7 linked regions of the Homo sapiens genome follow. The protein of the gene in region 7 interacts with the protein of the main gene of each other region in a pairwise test. Each region holds a gene or a part of one and is shown on either strand. Other genes may lie near its edges.

Region 1 (3,500 bases), on a different chromosome or scaffold from region 7:
TAGACAGCATTGATTATGCAGTAAAAGCAATATTGGATGAATTTGGAAAACTTAACATTTTTCCTCTTTAAGGTAGAGTTTTTAATACTATTTGAATAGTTATTTAAAGTGGAAAATTACAAAAATGAATAAAATAAAAGAGAAAATTACATTTGTCTTTCTCCTTCGAATCCTCATCTGAATGTAGATTCCGAGTGATGCCCCATGGAAGGCTCCCCTTGCAGAAGAGTGGGACAACATGACAATGAAGGAGCTACTGGACAAGCTCTGCTGGACTGAGTAAGTCTTGCCATTAGGCACAGGCATTTACTGTGACCACCTTTTAGGTTTATTTAGCAATACCGTTCAACAAGTATGGGACAAGTAGCTGCTTTGTGTCTAAAACCACACCACCAGCCAGTGGCATGCTGAAAACCATTGGAATTGGCTCCTACCCTGAAGATATCTGTACATACAACTTACTTCTTTGGAGTAGTTTTGTATCACAAAGGTGGTATTACCCTGTGAAGTCCTCAGAACAGACCAGAAGGTACCACTTTCTTTATCTGAAACAGCTTAAAGACCATCAGCTTAAAGCTCTCATTTATTAAGTTGTTGATATAGGACAATTTTTGTATTCTTCACTGGTGGTCAAATGTGGAGATGGTTAGCATGTGCATTTGCCACACCTTGTGTGAAGTAGTGCAATTCTTCAAGGACTTAAAGAGGAACCTCTAAAGCCTTTGTGTAGATAGGTCACAACTACAGGGGAAACATGTGTGACTGGACTGGCTGTTCCCCTTTAGTGAAAAAACAAGTACCTATGAGTTAAGCATTAAATTCTTGTTGGCAGAACTGGGAACTGTAGAGAAATTGTGAAGGCTTGTATAGACAGACCACATGGAGAGGCCACACTGCTCTTGGACAGCAGGGAAAATGGAAAGGATTATGAGGGTTCCCATTCAAGCACGTGGTAAATTTGTGGTAAACAAAATAAGAGAAATGGAAGCCAAATTCAAGGAGACTGCCCTGTCTTGCTAAAGAGCATTAGTTGAGAATATGTTTGGCTCGGGGGTTAATGTCTTCATTTTTAGGCATTCATTCACTGCCAACTAAAAGTAAAAACAAGCTTTTAGAATATCTGAATCTTAAAAATGGAAATAATCAAAAGACATAAAATTCATATATTTTTCATATAAAAATTCAGCTTCTAATAATTTAGCTTTAAGAAAGTGAGGCAAAAGAAGAGAGAGGCACCAGCATGGCACATGTATACATATGTAACTAACCTGCACAATGTGCACATGTACCCTAAAACTTAAAGTATAATAATAAAAAAAAAAAAGAAGAGAGAGGCATACAGGGAGAGAAGGAGAGAGGGAGAGGGAGAAACAGTGAAAGAGGCAGATTCAAAGCATTATTTTTAAAAGGGAGGATCTGAAAGCCCAATAGTAGAAGATCGGCAGAATCAAGTATGGAACATCTAAAAAATTGAGTACTTGAGGGTTTTAAAAAATCGTGTTGTAGAGGAATATTTAATGACTGGAAAAAATAGTAATATTAAACACATAGAAAAGCAGGCTATTGTGGTATGGTATATGATCTCATTTCTAAAAACAACTATTTATATATGCACTGCAAAAGCAATGGACATCCATTGAAGTATTTTTAACGTTTAATATTACCATGCAAACATTTATTTTTAAAATGTTTAAAAACTTTACATCATTAAAAATTATTCTTTAAACATCATATTTCATGGTACCAGAATATTCCATGGGAAATGAATACGTAATGTATTTGTCCATTATCATCCTGTTGAACACATTGGTTACTTTCTGTTTTTTGTTATTATCATTATACAATACTCTATAATAAACATCTTTATGCCTCTCCTGTGTTTTCAACCTTTGAAAGCAACCAGTTCTGGAATAGTAAAATCCTTTTATGTCATGAAATCAATGCGTGTTATTAATTATATTCTTTTAAACATTTACCTAATGCTATCTAACACCTCTATGAGAATGTAGTTTGCAATATAATTTATTTTAATAGTAATAAAATTGTAGTATTTAGTTTTAAATTATATACTTTAGATTTTCAAAATATAATAAGTATGTAATTATCTGCATTTGTTTTATAACTCCTGTTATGAAAAGCTTTTAATAAATTCAGTTAGGTCTTCTCTCCTCAGAGAACTTTTAAGTTTCTTGGTGATAAAATCAATCATATGTTTTTGGGATCACAGGGACCCGACATTTTCTATCGTAGCCCTTGGCCTAGTCCTCCACTTAGTGAATATTCTAAGTTGTCATTTGACAAAATAAAGCATTCTGAGATACTAGGAGTATAAGAACACAAGACAATTTTCCAACTCTTCCCAAGCAAGATACACACAGTATTATTTCCTGGATTTAAATGAAGTAATCCCCAGAATATCCAACCTATTGTTGTTCAAACTAAAGCACAATCATACATTCCAAGACTAATGTTGATTATTCTTTCAGTTATTATCATTTACAAAGTGCACTTCACAAACATGAATTGTATTTTCAATGTGATCACAGCTATGTAAAAACATTTTTTAAAAGACCTATACTTAGAAAAAAATGCATCAAAATGAGACTAGTAATTATCTTCTGGAGGGGCAGAAATATGGAAGACACTCGTTCTCTCATCCTTTTATCTTATAAATTTTCCAAATTTTATATAATGTGTATGTATTTTTCATGTAGAAAAATATTATAACATTTATCTTTTAAAAAGTCAACAGGGCAAAAAATACGGAAATATTGCACTAACTTCCTTGACCTTCCATCCTTCAAATATTGTTCTTATTTCTTTTCTTACTGAAGCTCCTAGAGTAAATTCAAATAAAGGATTAGGAATGGACTGGCCCTTCAGAATTACTTTTAGATCTCCCTTTATTTCAAACCAGAATTATTTCTTTCCCACCAAATTGCCAACAATAACAACTAGAATTCCAGCAATATTTTTGTTAAATATTGGCTCTCCAGCTGGGCCAATGTTAGGTTTCAGTTATTTATTACTCCCTTTACTGTATGCCCCTCAATCCACCTAAAAAATAAGGAAGAAAAGAAATAGGATTTTAGGAAGCAACAAATAAAATACTACTTTTATTTTAAATTGACGTCTGGATATGTGTTTTAGTTAGATATTACAAATTGCCTCTGCAAGGAAGGCATGAGCTAGCAATTTCCATCCCTTCAATTATCCTGAGAAATCTTACAAAACTAACTGTAAGTCGCTTTAATGTATATATGACACCATTTCACAGGCTGTAATGATGGGGACTGTCATAGACGGGCTGTCAGGTTGTTACAGCTGCAAATAATGTCAATAATTGGTATGTGTGTTAGGCATGATTCTACAAACTTCTAGGGTCAAGATACAGTAAAGTAGAGAGATGCCCCTTGGTGAGTAGCTGCACTTCCAAGGCTGTCAGCTGACTAATTAGAAAACATTTTGAGGTATCAAAAGCACGAGTTTTGCGTCAAGTA
Region 2 (3,500 bases), on a different chromosome or scaffold from region 7:
ATTTTTTATTTTTGAGACAGAGTCTCGCTCTGTCGCCCAGCCTGGAGTGCAGTGGCACGATCTCGGCTCACTGCAAGCTCTGCCTCCCAGATTCATGACATTCTCCTGCTTCAGCCTCCCGAGTAGCTAGGACTACAGGTGCCTGCCACCACGCCCGGCTAATTTTTTGTATTTTTAGTAGAGATGGGGTTTCACCATGTTAGCCAGGATAGTCTCGATCTCCTGACCTCGTGATCCGCCTGCCTCGGTCTCCCAAAGTGCTGGGATTACAGGCGTGAGCCACCACGCCTGACCTACATTTTTAGTAGAGATAGAGTTTCACCATGTTGGCCAGGCTGGTCTCAAACTCCTGACCTCAGGTGATCTGCCCACCTTGAGCCCCCCAAAGTGCTGGGATTACAGGCGTGAGCCACTATGTCCGGCCCTACTACCACCAAATTTGACACATCATTTGCAAGCACTGACATAGCAATTAAGCACATTTGCATATTCATCTGTACTCATTTTATGTTAAGCCCACCAGGTCTGAAGTCATTTACATCAGTTTCATGTTAATTATCAGAGGGGGTCTAAAAGACTACCTTATTCATGCCTACAAAGCTGGTGTCATATTTGCATAGATCAGCATGCCCATTTATATGCCACCTTCAAAGTACACCCAAGCTTCCCCAGTAGGGTCCAAGACACAGCTGATCAAGACACAGCTGATCAAAGAGAGCTCCTCCCTCTGCCCATGTGCTCACCTGCGCTGCCCTGTCTGGGCCTCAGTCTGGTTGATCCAGTTCTTATAGAGGTGGACAGGGTCTGTGTGGACGCTGAGCACTTTGTCTTCTAGCACATCCTGGATAACCTTGCCCAGAATCTCCTGCAGGGCACTCTGTCCCCGCCCATTACGGTAGAATCTCACCACCAGCCTCACCACTGTTGGGTTGCCTGTCACCACGTCCTGGGGCTGCTCCACCTTTGACCTGTGGTTTAAGAGGTCATTGAAACCAGTCTTCTGCCTCTGTGTAGGACATACCGTTGCTTTTCCTTTTTGAGATTTTGGCTCTCAAAGCCTGCCCTGGTGTCCCCGCTCTTAAGGAATGTCTTGATATCTCTCTCATCCTTTGTGTTAGCATGTCAGCCCATATCCTCCCACTGTGCTGTCCCAGATGTTTTACGGTTTCTCCACAGGAGGTAGAGAAAAGAGGTCTTCTGATTCCATTTCTACCCTTAGGCCTCAACAAGTTGTCACCTTGTGAAGGAGCCAACAGGGGGATCTCTTAACCCATTCTCTCCCCATTCCTTTGTGTCTGGAGAGCCTACTTGATTTCCTCCTGGAGTGCTGTCTTGAACAGCTGGAGCAGGAGATAGGCCTCTCGGCGGCTGGAGGCATAGTTGTACAGGCTGAAAATCACTGCCTCCATGAACTTGGTGGTTTTGTTCTGTGGCATCTGAAAGATCAGCTTGGCCAGGTAGATGGGCTGAGTCTGCAAGCAAGAGGGGAGACAGGAATGGCTGACCATGCACTTCAAGGACCAGTGATAGGATAAGGAAAGGCTTTCCCCTGATGGAAATCTGGAATGGAGAAAGCACTACCACACTTTCTCCAGGTGCTAGTAACATTCCAGACAAACAGGGGAAGAGGTAGTCTCCTTTCCTGGGGATAAGGAATTAAGATTATGGGAAAGGACACCTTGCATGGTGCCAAACGCACAGACAAGAAGGCCTTGAAGTCTCAGACCCTCAGGAGACGGGAGAGACTTCTCCTTGGAAAGTCCTCTGCTAACCTGGAGCAGGTAGAAGAGGTGTTGGTATGCTTCTAGTTTCTGCCGTTTCTCTTTGCTCAGCGACTTTAAACCCTTCTGCTTGTCCAGAACCATCATATCTGACAGCTGTTCCTTATTCCTCTTGGTCAGCTTCTTGCAGTGGGAGACCACTTCCTGCAGGGGTGGAGGAGCGGGTGATACAACTAGCCTAGGCCATCCCAGGGCACAGAACATACGGTCTAGAATCAGTGCCTTGAAGAGCCAGGGCTTTCTGCTGTTCAAGGAACAGGCATAAGCTGGGGGACAGAAGCAGTTCTAGGGTGAGGAAGGGCCCCTCCAAGTGCCCTGAGACTCCATCTGTTTCCTCTCCTGTCATGGGAGTGAGTCCCCAAAGAGAACTGGTTTGCCAGGCTGAGGAATTGTGTCTATTTGGCTTTTGCTATCTCTTCTTATTAGACTGCTACACACATTTGAGGTGGAGCTATCACTATATCACTATTACCCTGTCACTGCATATTTATATGGTAATTTATGATTTAAACAGCTTTCATATCTGTCTCTATATTTGGCCTGGAGAGGTGGACATTCTCATTATTCTCAGTTTGCTAATGAGAAAACAGACTTAGAAGTGAAATGAGCACCCACAGCCCCATCCCTGGGAATCAGCAGAGCCAGGCATTCTGATTCTAGGTTTCATGCTCTTTCTACTCTGTCATGGGTCCCCCAAAATGATTTATTAGAATGGCAGAGGGCCACTGGAACAAGGACCTGAGTCAGGTGACAAAATCCACAACATTTTGAAAAAAATTGATTAGCAAGCAGAGAATGGTCAGCATCACATCTCCAGAGGCAGGCAGATCTCGGGGAGGGGAGGACTGGTGGGCCCCATACCTGCAGAGTGATCCGGTTCTTCACCAGCAGGCCAATCTTGATGTCCATGATGTTGAGGTCCTGCTCCAGCTGCTGATTGGATCGGATCTTCCTAACTACCTCTTCCTGGAGCTTCAGCAGCTCTGCCTCAGCCAAGAAGTCTTGCTGGCTTTGATTCAAGAGATGGGCAAATCTGCGTACCACACTGAGAGGAGGGTGGGGTGCATGCACTGGGAGGAAGGGAGGAGGCATCAGGATTAGCCATGCCTCATCAGAGGCCTCCTCACCAGCCCCTGCCCGAGTCAGCCCACCCCAGTCCCCGTTCTGCTTGGGATCAGCAGGTCCCCAACCCCAGTCCTCTTCTAACTGGTTCTGCTTGCACTTGGAGGGCAGTGGGTAGCCTTCTAGCCAGGCCTGTCCCTGAGCTTCCTGTCTTATAACTGGAGATGACATAATAGCTGCTCTTCCCATGCCTCTGATTCACCCCAGCCTGGGTCTATCCCAGGGACCTCTGACACCAAAGCCAGAGCCACAGCTCCCTCTGATTATCCTCCCAGACCTCCCTAGTCTACCCCAATCTACCACTCACTTCTGCTGGGCCAACCTGCTCCTCCTCCTCCTCCTACCTGCCAGCCACCACTCAGCCCTGCTTGCTCCCACAGTGCTCCTCTGTCAGGAATGTCTGTACACACCGGGAAGGACAGGTAGACGGGATGGACAGTGGGCTTTATAATTTAGGGGAGGTCAGAGCTAGCTGGTGATTCTCCTTGAATCACCTTTGGAATTGGCATTTGAGCAAAAAAGAAAGAAGCCTCTGAGCTAATTTATTGGAAATAACAACAAAACAACTAATACATAGAATGTTTACTATGAGACAGA
Region 3 (3,500 bases), on a different chromosome or scaffold from region 7:
CTACAGATTTGCCTATTCTGGGCCTTTTATGTGTCATACAATATCTGGTCTTTTGTGACTGGCTTCTTTCACTGAGCCTAATGCTTGGAGGTCCATCCATGTTGTAGCATGTATCAATACTTCACTCTTTTTTATTGCCAAATAATATTCCATTATATAGATATACCATTTTGTGTTATTTTGTTTGTTTGTTTGAGACAGGGTCTTATTCTGTCACCTAGGCTGGAGTGCAGCTACGCAATCTTGGCTCACTGCAACCTCTGCCTCCTGGGTTCAAGCAATTCTTCTGCCTCAGTCTCCTGAGCAGCTGGAATTACAGGTGCCTGCCACCATGCCTGGCTAAGTTTTGTATTTTTTTAGTAGAGACGGGGTTTCATCATATTGGCCAGGCTGGTCTTGAACTCCTGACCTCAAGTGATCTGCCCCATCTCAGCCTCCCAAAGTGCTGGGATTACAGGCGTGAGCCACTGCACTCAACCCTAGATATACCATTTTGTTTACCAGTTGATGTTCATCAGTTGATGACTACTTGGATTGTTTCCACTTTTTGGCTATTATGAGAAACGCTGCTAAGAACATTTGTGTGCAAGTTTTTGTGCAGACATACGTTTTCCTATCTCTCGGGGGTACATACTTAAATGGGCAAATTTTATGGTATATGAATCATATCTCAATAAAGCTATGATCACATCAGCACTCTGGGTGTGATCATAGCACTCCAGTCTGGGTAACAAATTGAGACCCTGATTCTAAAAACAACAACAACAACAACAACAAAACAACTGACCATAAATACAAGGGTTTACTTCTGGACTTTCAATTCCTTTGATCTATAATGTGTCTACCTTTATGACAGTATCAAACCATCTTAAGTACTGTAACTGTATAGTAATTTTGAAATCAGTACATGTGATTCCTCCAACTTTGTTACTCTTCAAGCTTGTTTTGGCTTTTCTAGATCCCTCGGATGTCATGAATTTCTGGATCAGACTGTCAGTATCTGCAAAAAGGACAACTGAGATGTTGATAAGGACTGCACTGATTCTGTAGATCAATTGGGGCATATTCCTATCTTAAGTCTTCTGATCAATGAACATGTAATGTCTTTCCATTATTTACATTTTTAATTTCTTTCAATGAGTTTTATAGTTTCCAGTGTATGTCTTGCACTGTTTTGTTAAATTTATGCCTAAGTATTTTATTCTATTTGATTCTATTGTAAATGAAATTATTTCCTTAGTTTCATTTTTTGGATAAAATCCTACCATACGGAAGTACAATTGATTTTTGTATCCTGTCACACTGCTGAACTCATTTTTTCTAATTTTTTTAAGTGGATTCCTTAGGATTTTCTACACATAAGATCATATTTTCTGCAAACAGATAATTTTACTTCTTCCTTTTTAATCTGGGTATCTTTTATTTCTTTTTCTTGCTAAATTTCCCTGCATAAAATCTCTAGTGCAATGGTAAACAGAGTGGCAAGATCTTTGTCTTGTTGCTGATTTAGGAGTGGAAACATTCAGTCTTCTTCCATTAAGTATGATGTTAACTGGGTTTTCATAGATGCCCTTTGTGAGGCTGAGAAAATTCCCTTTTATTCCTGGTCTGTTGAGTGTTTTAATCACAAAATGATGTCAGTCAAAATGCTTTTTCTGTGTCTATTGACATGATTATGTGGTTTTTGTCTTTTATGCTATTAGTATGGTATATTAATTGGTTTTCAAATTTAAACCAACCTTGCATTCCTAAGATAAATTCCTCTTGGTCATGATTTATAATCCTTTTTATGTGTTGCTAAATTTGTTTTGCTTGTATTTTGTTGAGTATTTTTGTATCTGTATTCATAAAGGATACCAGACCATAATTTCCTTTTCTTGTGATATCTTGGTCTAGTTTTAGTATCAGAGTAATACTGGCCTCAAAATGAGTTGGAAAGTGTTCCCTCCTCTTCTATTCTATTTTTTTGAGAGAGTCTGAAGGATTGGTATAATTCTTTAAATGTTTGGTAGAATTCACCAGAGAAACTATCTGGACCTGGACTTTTCTTTGCAGGAAGTTTTAAAATTACTAATTCAATCTCTTCGTTATAGGTCTATAGACCAAAGGAATTGAACTGAAAGTCCAGAAGTAAACCCTTACATTTACAGTCAGTTGATTTTTATCTATTTCTTCTTGAGGCAAGTTTGGTAGTCTGTGACTTCCTAGGAATTTGTCCATTTCATCTAAGTTATCTAAATGTGTTAGCATACAGTTGTTTATAGTATTCTAATTATTTTTATCTCTTTATTTTCTTTTTTAGACAGTCTCACTCTGTCGCCCAGGCTGGAATGCAGTGGCACAATCTCGGCTCACTGCAACCTGTCTCCCGGGTTCAAGTGATTCTCCTGCCTCAGCCTCCCGAGTAGCTGGGACTACAGGCACACACCAACATAACTGGCTAATTTCTGTATTTTTAGTAGAGATAGGGTTTTTTCAGCCACCTCACCTGGCCTCTTGCTGACTGACTGATTGAGACAGGGTGTCACTCTCTTACCCAGGCTGGAGTGCAGTGGCTCAATCACCGCTCAGTGCAGCCTCAACCTCCCTGGGTTCAGTGATCCTTACACCTCAGCCTCCTGAGTAGCTGGAACTACAGGCATGTACCACCACATCAGGCTAATTTTTGTATTTTTTGGTAGAGATAGGGTCTCCCTATGTTGCCCAGGCTGGTCTTGAACTCCTGGGTTCAGGGGATCCTCCCACCTCAGCCTCCTAAAATGCTGGGATTATAGGTGTGAGCCACTGTGCTCTCTTTTATTCTTGATCAGTCTAGCTAAAGGTGTGTTGAGTTTGTTGATCTTTGCAAAGAACCAACTTTTGATGTTGATTGTTTTTCTTTACTATTTATTTTCACTCTAAATTGTATTATTTCCTTCCTTCTGGTCACTATGGGTTTAGATTGCTCTTCTTTTTCTAGTTTCTTAAGGTAGAAGATTAGATTATTTAAGGTTTTTTTTTTTGTTGTTTTTTTTTTTGAGACAGGAGTTTCACTCTTGTTGCCCAGGCTGGAGTTCACTGCAACCTCCGCCTCCTGGGTTCAAGCAGTTCTCCTGCCTCAGCCTCCTGAGTAGCTGGGATTACAGGCGCCTGCCACCACGCACAGCTAATTTTGGTATTTTTAGTAGAGACAGGGTTTCGCCGTGTTGGCCAGGTTGGTCTTAAACTCCTGACCTCGGGTGATCCACCCACCTCAGCCTCCCAAACTGTTGGGATTACAGGTGTGAGCCACTGCGCCTGGCCGAGATTCTTTTTAATAAAAGCATTTACAGCTATACATATCCCTCTAAGCATAGTGTTAGTTGCATCCCATAAATCTTGGTGCATTATATTTTTGTTTTCATTTATCTCAAAGTACTTTCTATTATAATTTTCCTTTTGATTTCTTCTTTGACTCTTGGTTATTTAGAAATGTGCTGTTTAATTTCAACCTATTTGTGGATTTTCTACTTTTTCTTCTG
Region 4 (3,306 bases), on a different chromosome or scaffold from region 7:
TCCCGAGTAGCTGGGACTATAGGCGTGTGCCACCACGCCTGGCTAATTTTTGTATTTTTAATAGAGATGGGGTTTCACTGTGTTGCCCAGGATGGTCTCGATCTCTTGACCTCGTGATCTGCTCGCCTCGGCCTCTCAAAGTGCTGGCAAAGTGAGAATTTTAAGCACATCAAGCTAGGCTAGAGCCAGAGAATGAATGCAGTGGTCCACTGACTCACAGGAGAGGCCCTGTGGGACTATAGCTGGGGTTGGCCAGGGTAACAGTGAGCTTCAGGCTGAGCACGAGTTGGGGGGCAGGCTTGACTCCATGTAACTCACCCCCCTTGCCCTATGTCCCATTCTAGGAAGACCCTGGAGGCCTCAGCCATCTGCCGCTATGACCTGGCAGAGATCCAGGCTGTCTTTGCAGGACCCTATATGGAATACCAGGATGGTTCCCGGCGCTGGGGTCGCTATGAGGGTGGGGTGCCTGAGCCCCGGCCTGGCTCGGTGAGTGCCCAGGCCTGGGGCCAGTGCTGAGTAGACAGAGCCCAGGGAAGGGTCAAAGGGTCTGGCCTTGTGGAGAGGGCAGGCAGGTGGTGGAGTCCCGAGGTTCACCACCTTCGTCCCCCACGCCAGTGTATCACAGATTCATTGCGCAGCCAAGGCTACAATTCATCCCAAGACTTGCCATCCCTGGTCCTGGACTTTGTAAAGTTGCACCCACTGATGGCTCGGCCCGTTGTGCCCACACGTGGACGGCCCCTGCTGCTCAAGCGCAACATACGCTACACACACCTTACAGGGACACCTGTCACCACGCCTGCTGGACCTACCTATGACCTGCTCTTTCTGGGCACAGGTGCTTCTGATCCCAATCCCTGATCCCTGTTGGCCCTGATCACTAATGCTTCTGAATCCATTAATTCCTGCCATGACTAGTCTGGAGTTCCCAGTGTCCTGAGGGTCCACTGCTCCTGGCTGAGTCCTTGTTCTGGACCTCAGGACTCCTGAGCTGTTCGTATTAGGCCTCTTGCAGGGTGCTGAGAGCAGATCCCATAGTTGGGGTCTAACTCTCTGCTCTTTCCATACCAGCTGATGGCTGGATCCACAAGGCCGTAGTCCTGGGCTCTGGGATGCACATTATTGAAGAGACACAAGTGTTCAGGGAGTCCCAGTCTGTGGAAAATCTAGTCATCTCTCTATTGCAGGTAGCCCTTCTCTGTGACCCTTAATATAGCCTTGCTGAAATAGGAAGAGGGAGTGGGGAGGTTGGGCAGAGGCTGTGTATCTGTATGAGTGGGGACGCTGCCGACCAACTGTCCTATCTGGCTCCCAGCACAGCCTCTATGTGGGGGCTCCTAGCGGAGTCATCCAGCTACCACTCTCCAGCTGCTCCCGCTACCGATCCTGCTATGACTGCATCTTGGCCCGAGACCCCTACTGTGGCTGGGACCCTGGCACCCATGCCTGCGCAGCAGCCACCACCATAGCCAACAGGTCCCAGGGAAGCAGGTGGGAAGTGGTGGGGGGTGACAGTCACATGTGGTCTGAGTGGAGGAGGAAGGCCTGATAGCTACTGGGGGAGTGCAGGGGCTAGTTATTAGTAACAGACCTATCTACCCTTTCACTGGGAAACTGAAACCCAGTTCCCCTTGTTCATAAAACCTGATCTTCTGTCCCAGGACAGCACTGATACAGGACATAGAGAGAGGAAATCGAGGCTGTGAGAGCAGCAGGGATACAGGTAAGTGACTCATATGAGTGTGGGTCTAGCTACGCAGACTGTCCTCTTTGCCATTTACTGCCATGTGTACGTATATGTTTGTATCTGAGTGGCTGTGGCTATGTACATTTGGTAAGGATGACTCAAACACAGAGCCTGGCACAGAGTAAGTGCTCAACAAACATTTACTGCCCAAATGAATTATAAACTAGGAAACATATTTAAGATGTGAAGTGTCTTGTCACTTCTGGAGCTTATAGCCAAGTAGTGGATGACAAGGGTTCAGGACGGTAATGGGTATTTCCCCAAGGAAGATCGGATGACTGAACTGATATCTGAAGAAAGAACAAAAGTTAATCATCACAGCTAAGATGTATTAAGTATTTACTGTGTGCCAGACACTGATCTAAATACTTCTATGCATGATGTCATCTACTGTCACAGCATTCTTATGAGAAAGGTGCCATTATTATTATCCCCATGAGGGACCTCTCTGAAGCCCAGGGAGTGTAAGTAAATTGCTCAAACTTATTCAGCTATTAAGAAACTGGACCAGAATTCAAACCTGGCTGAGTACAGTGGCTCACGCCTGTAATCCCAGCACTTCGGGAGGCTGAGGTAGGTGGATTGCTTGAGCTCAGGAATTGGAGACCAGCCTGGGCAACATGGCAAAACCCCATCTCTACAAAAAATACAAAAATTAGCCGGGTGTGGTGGCACATGTCTGTAATCCCAGCTACTTGGAAAGCTGAGGTGGGAGGATCACTTGAGCCTGGGAGGCAGAGGTTGCAGTGAGCCAAGATCACACCATTGCACTCCAGCCTGGATAACAGAGTGAGACCTCATCTCATCTCAAAAAAAAAAAAAAAGAAAGAAAAAAGAATTCAAACCTGACCCCAAGCAGTCTGATTTGACTTTGTGCTTCTGGTCACTATACTATGCTATCTCCCACAAGTTAGCCAGGCAAGCAGAGGACATGGGGTAATGGGGTGACATGCAAGCAGAGGGAGCAGCAGGCAGAGGGAGGCTGGCACATTTGAGTGACAGGAGAATAGGCTGGACAAGTGGGCAAAGGCCATGTTGAAGATTTTGGTCTTTATCCGAAAAGCAATAGGAAACCTCTGAAGAGTTTTAGGCTGGAGAGTGGCATGATCAGATTTGTGTTTTTAAAATACCTCTCATGAAGAATGGATTACATGGGGCCAGAGTGGGCCAGGAGTCATGGAAGGAGAGAAATCAACAGGTCTAAGATAGATGCCAGAAACAGAATCTTAGTGACAGTTAGATACAAACGTGAAGAAGGGCCGGGCACGGTGGCTCATGCCTATAATCCAGCACTTTGGGAGGCCAAGGCGAGTGGATCACTTGAGGTCAGGAGTTCGAGACAAGCCTGGCCAACATGGTGAAACCCTGTCTCTACTAAAAATACAAAAACTAGCTGGGCATGGTGGCATATGCCTGTAATCCCAGCTACTCAGGAGCCAGAGGCAAGATAATCGCGTGAACCAGGGAGGTGGAGGTTGCAGTGAGCTGAGATCACGTCACTGCACTCCAGCCTAGGCGACAGAATGAGACTCCGTCTCAAAAAAACAAAACAAAAC
Region 5 (2,497 bases), on a different chromosome or scaffold from region 7:
GGGTTTCACCATGTTGGCCGGGCTGGTGTCCAACTTCTGGCCTCAAGTGATCCACCCACCTTGGCCTCCCAAAGTGGTGGGATTACAGGTGTGAGCCACCGCGCCCAGCCAAATGCAAATGCAAATATTCTTACCACTGTACCACAGTGCTTGTTATTGGGGTTTTCATCTTTCTGATTTCAACATTGCTATCACTCTTGCTGGCTCTTCTTCCTCTACCCATCTCCTACCACTGGGGTTCCTTTCTTGGTGACACAGGATTTTTGCTCCTTAGCTCAGCTAGGTCCAGGTTCTTGTCTCACATTCAGGAAGAAATAGGCACGTGAACATGGAAGAGTGAGTGGAGTAGAATTTATCAAGCGAAACAGAAAGCTCTCAGCAAAAAGAGGGGTCCTGAAAACAGGTTGCTGGTTGCCCCCTTCGCAACTGAAAAGCTGATGGAGCTGGATTCCCTGTTTGTAAAGGCATGAATTCCTGGTGGCTCCACCCCATTCCCCCAGCGTGCATGTGGGGCCTTAGTGGGCTGCAGGCATGTTTAGGCAAGCCCCTGTGCAAGTTCCCTTATCTGCACAAAACATCTCATGTAACCATTTGTGGGACTGGTCAGAAGTTCTTCCGGGACCCTTCCCTACTGTCTGCCTAAAGCAAGCTGGCTAACTCCTTTCATTGGTTCATTTCACTTATATACACTCCCCAGCAATCTCATATACCTCCACAGTTCTCAAATACCACATATATACAGATGTTTCCAAATCTAAACATCTATCCCAGGTCTCTCTTCTGACCCCAAACCTTCATATCCAGCCGTCTACTCAACAGTCTCCTGGATTGCTCAGAGGCACCTCTTAACATATGTAAACCAGAGGGCAACACTGACCTCCCCAAACCTGCCTCTCCTCCTTTATGCTGCCCTATCCTATGAAGATTTTTTTTAAAATCAGGGCCGGGCACGGTAGCTCACGCCTGTAATCCCAGCACTTTGGGAGGCCTAGACAGGAGGATCACTTGAGCTCAGGAGTTCGAGACCAGCCTGGGCAATGCGGCGAAACTCTGTCTCTATAAAAAAAAAAATTAGCTGGGTGTAGTGGTGTGCACCTGTTGTCCCAGCTACTTGGGGGGCTGAGGCAGTAGGATTGCTTGAGCCCAGGAGGCAGAGGTTGCAGTGAGCTGAGACTGTGCCACTGCATTCCATCCTGGGTGACAGAGCCAGGCCCTGTCTCAAGAAATAATAAATGAATAAATAAATCAGGAAATTCCAATTTTTCTATTCGTAACATAGGTCTTACACTGACCCATATAATTTGGGGAAACTCCATCACTAAACTGAATTCTCTCTCTAAACTCTGCCTGAGGAGCCAAGACTAGGATAACTAGAGGAGGCCAAGAAGAGTGGTGCAGTTACCACAATTTTGTGAGGTGACTGTCTGGTCCCTTGCTCCTTACTCCCCTCAGAGGTAGATATGTAGAAAACTTCTGAAGATGTCCCCACACATAACATGTAATAACATCTATTGTGCCTGTACTTGATCAACATTTATAAAACTCCTCAATGAAAGCAGCAGTTGCTAATTCCTACAAAGAGTAATTTACATTTAGCATCCACTGACTGAATAAAATACCTAATGACAAAATGTTACCTTGAATTCAGTAATGATTTTAGATGAATCAGAATTTTCATTAATCATATCACGTACATATTTGTGAAAATGGCACAAAAATTTAAAACATGGTTATTCAGTCTCAAGGGTGTGCTTAGTGTGGAGTGACCCTCCTGCTCAGAACTCTACGGTTCTCTCACAGGTTTGCAAGGCAGTGCCAGAGAACAATTTTCAAAAAATAAATTAAAAAAGCAGAAATGAAAAAATCCTTGAAATGTTTTTTTTTTTCTTTCTTTCTCAGGGAGGGGCTTTCTATTTCATGGAGCATGTGGCAGCTGAGTGTTCGACTTGGAATTACTTCTGGCAACAAGTCCTGGATCCTGCCTGGCACCTTCTGTTTGATGGGTGCAACCTGACCAGAGAGAGCTGGAAGGCCCTGGAGCGGGCCAGCTTCTCTAAGCTGAAGCTGCAGCACATCCAGGCCCCACTGTCCTGGGAGTTGGTGCGCCCTCATATCTATGGATATGCTGTGAAATAGTGTGAGCTGGCAGTTAAGAGCTGAATGGCTCAAAGAATTTAAAGCTTCAGTTTTACATTTAAAATGCTAAGTGGGAGAAGAGAAACCTTTTTTTTGGGGGGCGGTTTTTTTGGTTTGTTGTTGGTTTTTTTTTTTTTTTTGGCGGGAAGAAAGAGTTTTGCTCTTGTTGCCCAGGCTGGAGTGCAATGACGTGATCTCCGCTCACTGCAACCTCCACCTCGCGGGTTTAAGCGATTCTTCTGCCTCAGCCTCCCTAGTAGCTGGGATTACAGGTGCCCACCACCATGCCCAGCTAATTTGTATTTTTAGTTGAGACAGGGTTTCACTACGTTGGCCAGGCTGGTCTTGAACTCCTGATCTC
Region 6 (3,500 bases), on a different chromosome or scaffold from region 7:
GAAACTTTGGTGGGTGGAGATAATCAGCCGAAAGCTCGGCTCAAGTCCAAGGATCAAGAGATGAGCACCCTCCTCGCTCCACCCCTCCCTCCAGCACCGCCAAGCTACAAACCAGGGATGGCAGCTCTGGGGGCGGGCGAGGGGCCGAGGAGAAGCCCTCACTGCAAGCTCAGCCTCAGGTCTGAGAGGGTGCGGACGGGAACCTGCAAGGAGGAAACGTGAGGAGGAGGCCGGGAGGAGAGGAGGGGGGGCAGGGCCTGCAGCCAGGGCCCAGTCTCAGAGGTGCCCGGCAGGGTTAGTGGGCACAGAGGAGGTGCAGCTGCGCCCCTCCTCCCCAGGCTGGGAGGCAGGAGGTACCAGAAGGGGCGCAGGAGGCGGCAGGCAGGACGCTCTGGGATGCAGGGCCAGGGGGCCTGGGTGGAGGGCACGGGAGGCTGGGACCAGGGCAGACCCGGGATGGAGGCGTGAGCAGGCAGAGAGAAAACCCGGACAGGGGCAGAGAGGGAAGAGGCAGGGTGCAGATGAGATCCAGGAGGAAGAAGAGGTGGATGAAGATGAGGCAGGACCTCCAGCGGGAAGCGGAGGAGGAGGCAGTGGTGGGAGGGAGAAAAGGTTAGCGGGATCCTGAGATGACTGGGCTGCAAAGAGAAAGTGAGAGAAGGGATGGTTATGCGGGTGAGGCGCCAGGCAAGTGGCTGAGCTAACCCTGGTGCCCCCCCAGCAGCCCCGGGGCCCCCGGTTCTGCAGCTGGCTCCAGCAAGGAGTGGGCGGGAGGCTCCGGCTTTGCTTAGCAATCATCCTCCTGGGGGTTGGCTGCACCTTTCTCCTGTGCATCTGCCTCCACCTGCACCTGTTCCACCTCCACCTCCTCCACCTCCTCCTCCTGCTGCTGCTGCTCCTCCAGCTGCTCCTCCGTGCTCTGTGAACCAGCCGGCGGACCCAGGGAAGAAAGAGTGGAGACACTAACAGAGGGGCCAGGGCCTGCTGGCTATCCCCAAAGACCCGGTCTCAGGCAAGGTGAAAGGGACCTCAGGAGAGGGGAGGGCTCCAGCCACAGAAGCTGGGGGCATCTTCTCCGGTCCCCTGGGCAGCTTGGGGAGGGCCTGGGGAAAGCAGCTGAGGATGGGATGCTGTGGGCATGCTCCGGGGTCAGCCTGGCTGCTGTTACATAGAGCGAGGCTGGAGGGAGGGGATGAAGCAGAACAGGGAGGGTGTGGGACTGGGGTATCCCTGAGGGGTGCCTGGGAAGGCCTTGTTTGGAAAGACTGCTCCTCAGTAGAAATGTGGCCAAGGAAGCCCCAGGGCAGACACCACCCAGATCTGGGATGCCAGCCAGTCTCTGACACCCCAGGTCCAGGGGCTTTGGCCCAAAGAGGCAGAAGGAGCAGTCTCGCTCTGCACCCTTGCAGGGCAGCGTCAGCCCTGGCAGTGGTGGGGGTGGGTGGGCAGGCAGGGTGCGTCACAGCAGGACAGGGAGGCAGACAGATAGACAGGAAGCCAGAGGTAAGCCTCCACTGTGTGGGGTTGGGCCCCAGGAGGAGCAGCCTGCCTTCTTCCCAGCCTGGTTCACGCCTGCTCTGTGGCTCTGCGAAGGCCCTTGGGACTTCCCACAGCACTGGGTCCAGGATGGCAGGACCCCCGCTCAGCCCTCTCCCCACAGTGGTACAGTGGATGCTGCCAGGGTGCTCTCAGGAGGCTGCCTCAACAGGCCAGGCGGACACACAGGACTGGCAGCCACCAGGCTGCCCCTATCCTGCAGAGCAGCCAAGGAGGGGGCCTGGGAAAGGGGCAGGATTTACAGCGGTGGCTTCCTCATCCTGGCTCAGGCCAGCTGGGGACATGCACCTGTCCCTGGGGAATAAACGGCCATTTGGGATCCCAGAAGTTCCAGGCTCCAAGGCACTACAAAGAGTATGTGATCCTCCCCTCTCACTTCAGAGAGTGCAGCAAAGGTGCTGGGAGAGGACAAGCCCTGTCCTAAGTCACACAGAGAGTGCCACACTGTGCCCTGACCCCTAGTCCATGCCACAGTGCCCAGTGGCCACTAAGCGGCCCCCTTCATGTAGCCTCTGAGTCCACGCCGGCTGCACCCTGGGGATGCTCTCATTTCACTGCTCCCAGCCTGGGCCTGGGTAACGGCAGGTGGCATGGGATGGATGGCGGTGGCTGTGAGCATGGGGTTGTGCATGGGCGGTGGCGGGAGAGAGGTGGAGGGATGGTGCAGGCGCAGGGGCGGGACAGGCGGGGAGGGTGGAGGGAGACAGGAGACTTCTCCGGACACAGGCTGAGGCGGGTGGGCTCACCTTGGTTTTGCGGCTGGACTCTGAGCTCAGCCCGTTTGGGGTGCTGTGGAGCTCCTTGGACACCACACACAGGAACTCTGCCTGGTCCTCGCTGCCGTAGTTGTAGGAGGAGCCGATGTTCACCAGCTAGAGGGGCGGAGCATGGGGAGAAAAATGCAGGTTGGTGTTGGGGGCCGTGGGGCAGGATACGACAGACCTCGGCACTCAAATCAAGATACCAGCTCAGGTCCTAATCTTGCGGCTTGTCGGGCCCACTCCTGGGTTTGTAGAGGGCACCTCTGGGCAGGAAGGTGGAGTCTTCCCCCTTGCAACCTGTGCCTGTGGTCTGTGCCCCAGGACCAGCCCCTCCGCCTGGCTTGGCTGGCCCGATCCCTGGTGGAGGGTGGCAGCATTACCGCTGTCCCCACCACCACCTCCAGCCTAGCCCCAGAGCCAGGGGGCCCTTTTCTAAATGCAGGCGGAGGCCTCTAAAGGGCGGCTGTCCCCCATTCCAGATGTGGCTGACACAGCCCCAGGACAAGGTTGCAGGGTGGCATTGGCAAGGTGGAGCCCCACAGAATATTCCCTTCACTCCTGGAAGCAGAGGTGGGACGACAGGTGGTCCACTCCTGAGACCAAAGGGCAAATGACCAATGGTCCCTGGCCTGCTTGCTCAGCCTCTGAGAGCCTGTGCAATTGCCAAAGACACCCAGAGGCTCTCAGAGTGGCCCTGCCCTTGTTCCAGGGTCCCTAGAATAACCACGCCCACAGAGCCCTTCTGGCTAAGAAATAAGAAAGTTCTTCCAGGTGATGAGTCTCATTCAGCTCTCAGGGACCCTGAAGAGAATCTCAGGCCTGCTGAAGGCCTCACAGCTAGGAAGGGGTGGAGCAGGGAATGGCATCGGGGATCCCAAGTCCTCTCTGAGTGTTGCAGACTTCAATATGGATTTCTAATGATTTGCATGACACTAATGCCAACATAGGGAGTCCTACGGAGGGCTGTAAGCTTTACTGATGGCCCTTCTAATCTCACAAGAGTCCTACAGAGGAGGTACTGTTAGCCCACTTCACCGATGAGGGAACTGGGTCCCGCACAGGAGATGTAACTTGCCCAAGGTGGCAGGCATGTCTGTGGCAAGGCCTAGAGGTGAAGCCAGGCCTCTGGCTCTGCACTAGGCCCATTCTTCCATCCCTCCAGGCCATCCTGGGGGCTCCGAC
Region 7 (3,500 bases):
GACCCTGATGGCCTTGGTTGACTCCCATGAGTCACTAATGCACTGTGACTAGCCAACATGATTCTAAAAATCAGGGCTGCATTAACAGAAGTTGAATGCCCAGAACAAAGGAGGTGAGAGTCCCATTCCCCTCTAGGCTGCTCAGACCATCCTGGGAATCAAGTCCAGATCTGTGCCTTCCTCCGTGAAAGGGATAGTAGGCAACTGGAACGTAATCAGGAATGGCATGCTGATTGTACAGAATGGTAGGTAGTGAGCTGTCCACTGTGCAAAGTGTGCAAGGGACACTGGGTATCCTTGAAACAGGGGGGAGTCTAAGACAGACAACCCTGTGGCCACGGCAGGAAAATACAAAAAGCTGCTTCTTACCCCGTCATTCACCATCCCCTGCCCCCGTTCCTGTGCCTGGAGATCTGGTCATTGAGCTGGGAGGTTTCAGGGAGGCCAATCCCTTCTGTGTTCCAGGACCTGGAAATTACCTCAACAGCCCGGGTGGCTCCAGCGCTGTTGGCGCGGACCTGGAAGAGGCGGGTGCTGGCAGGGGCTGTCTGCCCGCCCTCGCGGGAGGTGCCGCCCTTGTAGATGATCATGGGCTTCCCACCAAACAGGCTCATGAGGTGGGCGGGCTCCTTGCCTTGGACCACACGGCTCTGGCAGGGAGACAGGAGAGCAAGTCAGGGACCTTGGGGGCAGGCTTCAGTCCTTCTATGTCGCACTGGGCCCATCCCTCCAGACGAAGCCATCATGCTTGTGTCTGTGTGTGGCATGGAATGTGACCCGACAACACACAGGCAGGGACACCAGAATTCCAGGAAGGGTGGAGACAGTGCTATTGTCTGAGGTCCCCAGGGCACTGCTGCTGGGCTGCTCTCCATCTCCATGACGACATGCCTTCCTGATCCTCAGCCTGGTCCAAGAACCAGGAGAGCCTGTGTTTGCAAATGTTCCCTTAAATAGAAGCACAGGGATTGCTGGTGGACATTCTTCCAGAATGCTGACGTCAGGCCTGGGCATGACTGCTGGTGGAGTGGTAAGAACAGAGCATTCTAGATCCAGAAAACCCCCTCCTGCAGAGCCAGTGCACCCCAGATGCGGGCAGCAGTCAGGGGCTTGGTGGTGGGAGTGAGGCAGGGAAGATGTACACCCTCACATCTGCTCCTGCCCTGTGTGCGGCACCTTACCGTGGCCCCGGCTAACTATGTCCAGAAGAAAACCTCACATGTACGTCAGGCATATGGCAGTCGCTTCCCACCACGACCCACCACCGCTGAGTTAGGGCTTAGACCCCAACTCCACCCTGATGGTGAGAACTTGGGCACGTGTCTCAACCTCTTGAGTTCCTCCTCTGAAAAATGCAGCCAAGGATGCTACTCCCAAGGCTGTTGTCAGGATGCACTGAGCTAAGATGGTCATCATCTCATTTAGTGCCCAGCACCCAGTCTATCATAGTCAAAGGTCAGGGCACGAACCCCCGATGCCAATCTAGAGCCCTGCCCACTCCCACCGTAGGACGGAGGAAGCACAGTTGTTGTCCGCTTCCCCTATATTTCCACAAACCAGCTCTGCTGCCCTCCAGCGCCTGGCCAGAGTGACTTTTTAAACCAGAAATCCCTACACCTCAGACTTATCATTCAGCAACTTCCTGTTGTTCTCAGCATCAAGGTCAACATCGTCACTATGGCCTCTGGTGGTCTGGCCCCTCTGAGCACCTCTCTAGCCTCAAATCATGGCATTTTCCCCTTGCTTTAACACCCAATGCCCCCTCCCACCTCAGGGCCTTTGCATGTGTACCACCCTTTACCCACAATGTGCTTTCCTTCACTCTGCCTGGGCAACTCCTACACGTGCATCAGGTCCCAGTTGAACAGTCCCCTCCTGGGACAGGGGTGGGCTTTTCTAATCCAATAGGATCCTACCTAGGATTTACCTCCTTGTACTTAACACATATGTATAAGGGGGCACTTCTTATATGGCAGGCATGATTCTAAATGCTTACAAATGTTAACTCTTAATCCTCACAGCAATCTTGTGGGATGGTACTGTTATTACCCCTATTTTGAGGACACAGAGGCACAGAGAGGCTAAGTGACTTGCCCAACGTTGCCCAGAGGTGAGGACAGGATTCAAACCCAAGCATGCTGGTTCCACATCCGTGCTCAGCCACATGGCCTCTCCCATGTCTCTCTCCCAAGGTCTTGTCAATTTCACTCACTGCATCTGTCATAGCCATTGGTGTGCCTGTGTGTTGAATGTCTACTACCACCCAAGACAGCAAAGTCCACTAGGGCAGGGACAGTGTGTCTGTGTGTCCATGGCTACAGATGCAGTGTGGAACACATGGAAGCCCTAAATAAATACCTGTTCCATGGATGGATGGATGGATGGATGGATGGATGGATGGATGGATGGACAGACAGACAGATGGACAAACGAATGGATGGATGAGAGTCAGACAGATGAGTGAAGAGAAGGACAAGGCTCAGGCTGCAGCCCAGAGAGGCGGTGGGCTGGGCTCACCTGGACAGGGGTACCTCCCAGCTCCTCATCCAGCTGAGCAGTCAGGATGGCAGATGCAGCGACCTCATCCTGGGTAGACTGGGCACCCTGCCTGGAAGGGGAAGTGAGATTCAGCATCAGGGTGCACACAGAGCCCTGAGCCTCTCCCTTGCCCTGAGTCTGAGAAACCTACACATCTCCCTGTTACCAGTAATGAAACAGATAGAGAGGGAAGGGGACTCTTTCAGAACAACGAGAGCCAGGAACCACACCAACACTTCCACTCTCAGCCTAGCATCTTGCCCGCTTACAGAGATCTTAGTGCAACGCATGGATTTCCTTATGCTAAATGTGTCCCACAGGAGACTGGCTGGGTCATCCCATGCTGAACAGCCACAGAGAAGATGCTCTGAGACTCAAATCTGAGATGCAGAAAAGTGGCCAGGACATTTCTCTGGGCGGAAAAGCAGGTCGCAGAATAGCAAGTGTTACGAGAGCCTATTTGTGGGAAAAGATGTCAGTGATTAAGCCTCCCATGAACACGTGCAGAGAGGTCTGCACAGATGTTCACCAAAAAGGTCCATGGTGATTGCTCTTAGAGGGAAGATTTAGGGGGATTTTGCCTTTCTATCCCACCTCTTTGCATATTGTCTAAGTTTTCCATAACCAACATATGTCGTCGTATAAGCAAACAAAATCTGACCTATTAATGCGCTGATGCAGCTAATTTTTAAAACAGTCTTCTCACACATTTTGTACCAGGTGAATGTGTTATCTAGTCAAAAAAAAAATTAAGCTGTTTTTAAATGTCTGGGGTTGTCAAATTGAGAGACATTCTACAAAATAACTGACTAGTACCCTTTAAAAGTGTTAAGGGCATGAAAAAAAGGAAAGACCGGGCAACTGCCATAGATTCAGAGACTTTGGAGACATGATGAGTAAATGCCATGTGGGATCCTGGGTTAGATCCTAGATCAGGAAAAGAACAGTAGTGGGGGCCGGGC

Evidence for each region.
Region 1: the proteins of GSN (region 7) and MAOB interact in binary tests that used the Homo sapiens proteins (3 or more experiments, as listed by UniProt).
Region 2: the proteins of GSN (region 7) and IQGAP3 interact in binary tests that used the Homo sapiens proteins (3 or more experiments, as listed by UniProt).
Region 3: the proteins of GSN (region 7) and AUNIP interact in binary tests that used the Homo sapiens proteins (3 or more experiments, as listed by UniProt).
Region 4: the proteins of GSN (region 7) and SEMA4G interact in binary tests that used the Homo sapiens proteins (3 or more experiments, as listed by UniProt).
Region 5: the proteins of GSN (region 7) and TMT1A interact in binary tests that used the Homo sapiens proteins (3 or more experiments, as listed by UniProt).
Region 6: the proteins of GSN (region 7) and KCTD17 interact in binary tests that used the Homo sapiens proteins (3 or more experiments, as listed by UniProt).

The regions. Positions count from the first base shown.
Region 1 is NC_000023.11:43,798,951-43,802,450, reverse strand, and holds part of MAOB (amine oxidase [flavin-containing] B), read left to right. Parts: intron 1-187; coding exon 188-279; intron 280-3,500.
Region 2 is NC_000001.11:156,538,066-156,541,565, forward strand, and holds part of IQGAP3 (ras GTPase-activating-like protein IQGAP3), read right to left. Parts: intron 2,852-3,500; coding exon 2,643-2,851; intron 1,926-2,642; coding exon 1,773-1,925; intron 1,473-1,772; coding exon 1,309-1,472; intron 969-1,308; coding exon 744-968; intron 1-743.
Region 3 is NC_000001.11:25,849,458-25,852,957, forward strand, and holds part of AUNIP (aurora kinase A- and ninein-interacting protein), read right to left. Parts: intron 1-3,500. UniProt on the Homo sapiens protein: DNA-binding protein that accumulates at DNA double-strand breaks (DSBs) following DNA damage and promotes DNA resection and homologous recombination.
Region 4 is NC_000010.11:100,979,504-100,982,809, forward strand, and holds part of SEMA4G (semaphorin-4G isoform 1 precursor), read left to right. Parts: intron 1-344; coding exon 345-489; intron 490-618; coding exon 619-841; intron 842-1,074; coding exon 1,075-1,190; intron 1,191-1,318; coding exon 1,319-1,494; intron 1,495-1,664; coding exon 1,665-1,726; intron 1,727-1,872; exon of another isoform or gene 1,873-1,959; coding exon of another isoform or gene 1,960-2,040; intron 2,041-3,306. UniProt on the Homo sapiens protein: Cell surface receptor for PLXNB2. May play a role in axon guidance.
Region 5 is NC_000012.12:50,928,015-50,930,511, forward strand, and holds part of TMT1A (thiol S-methyltransferase TMT1A precursor), read left to right. Parts: intron 1-1,899; coding exon 1,900-2,136; 3' UTR 2,137-2,497. UniProt on the Homo sapiens protein: Thiol S-methyltransferase that catalyzes the transfer of a methyl group from S-adenosyl-L-methionine to alkyl and phenolic thiol-containing acceptor substrates.
Region 6 is NC_000022.11:37,058,242-37,061,741, reverse strand, and holds part of KCTD17 (BTB/POZ domain-containing protein KCTD17), read right to left. Parts: intron 2,430-3,500; coding exon 2,304-2,429; intron 920-2,303; coding exon 820-919; intron 639-819; coding exon 567-638; coding exon of another isoform or gene 204-566; coding exon 113-203; coding exon of another isoform or gene 1-112. UniProt on the Homo sapiens protein: Substrate-adapter for CUL3-RING ubiquitin ligase complexes which mediates the ubiquitination and subsequent proteasomal degradation of TCHP, a protein involved in ciliogenesis down-regulation.
Region 7 is NC_000009.12:121,323,662-121,327,161, reverse strand, and holds part of GSN (gelsolin), read right to left. Parts: intron 2,609-3,500; coding exon 2,518-2,608; intron 651-2,517; coding exon 480-650; intron 1-479. UniProt on the Homo sapiens protein: Calcium-regulated, actin-modulating protein that binds to the plus (or barbed) ends of actin monomers or filaments, preventing monomer exchange (end-blocking or capping).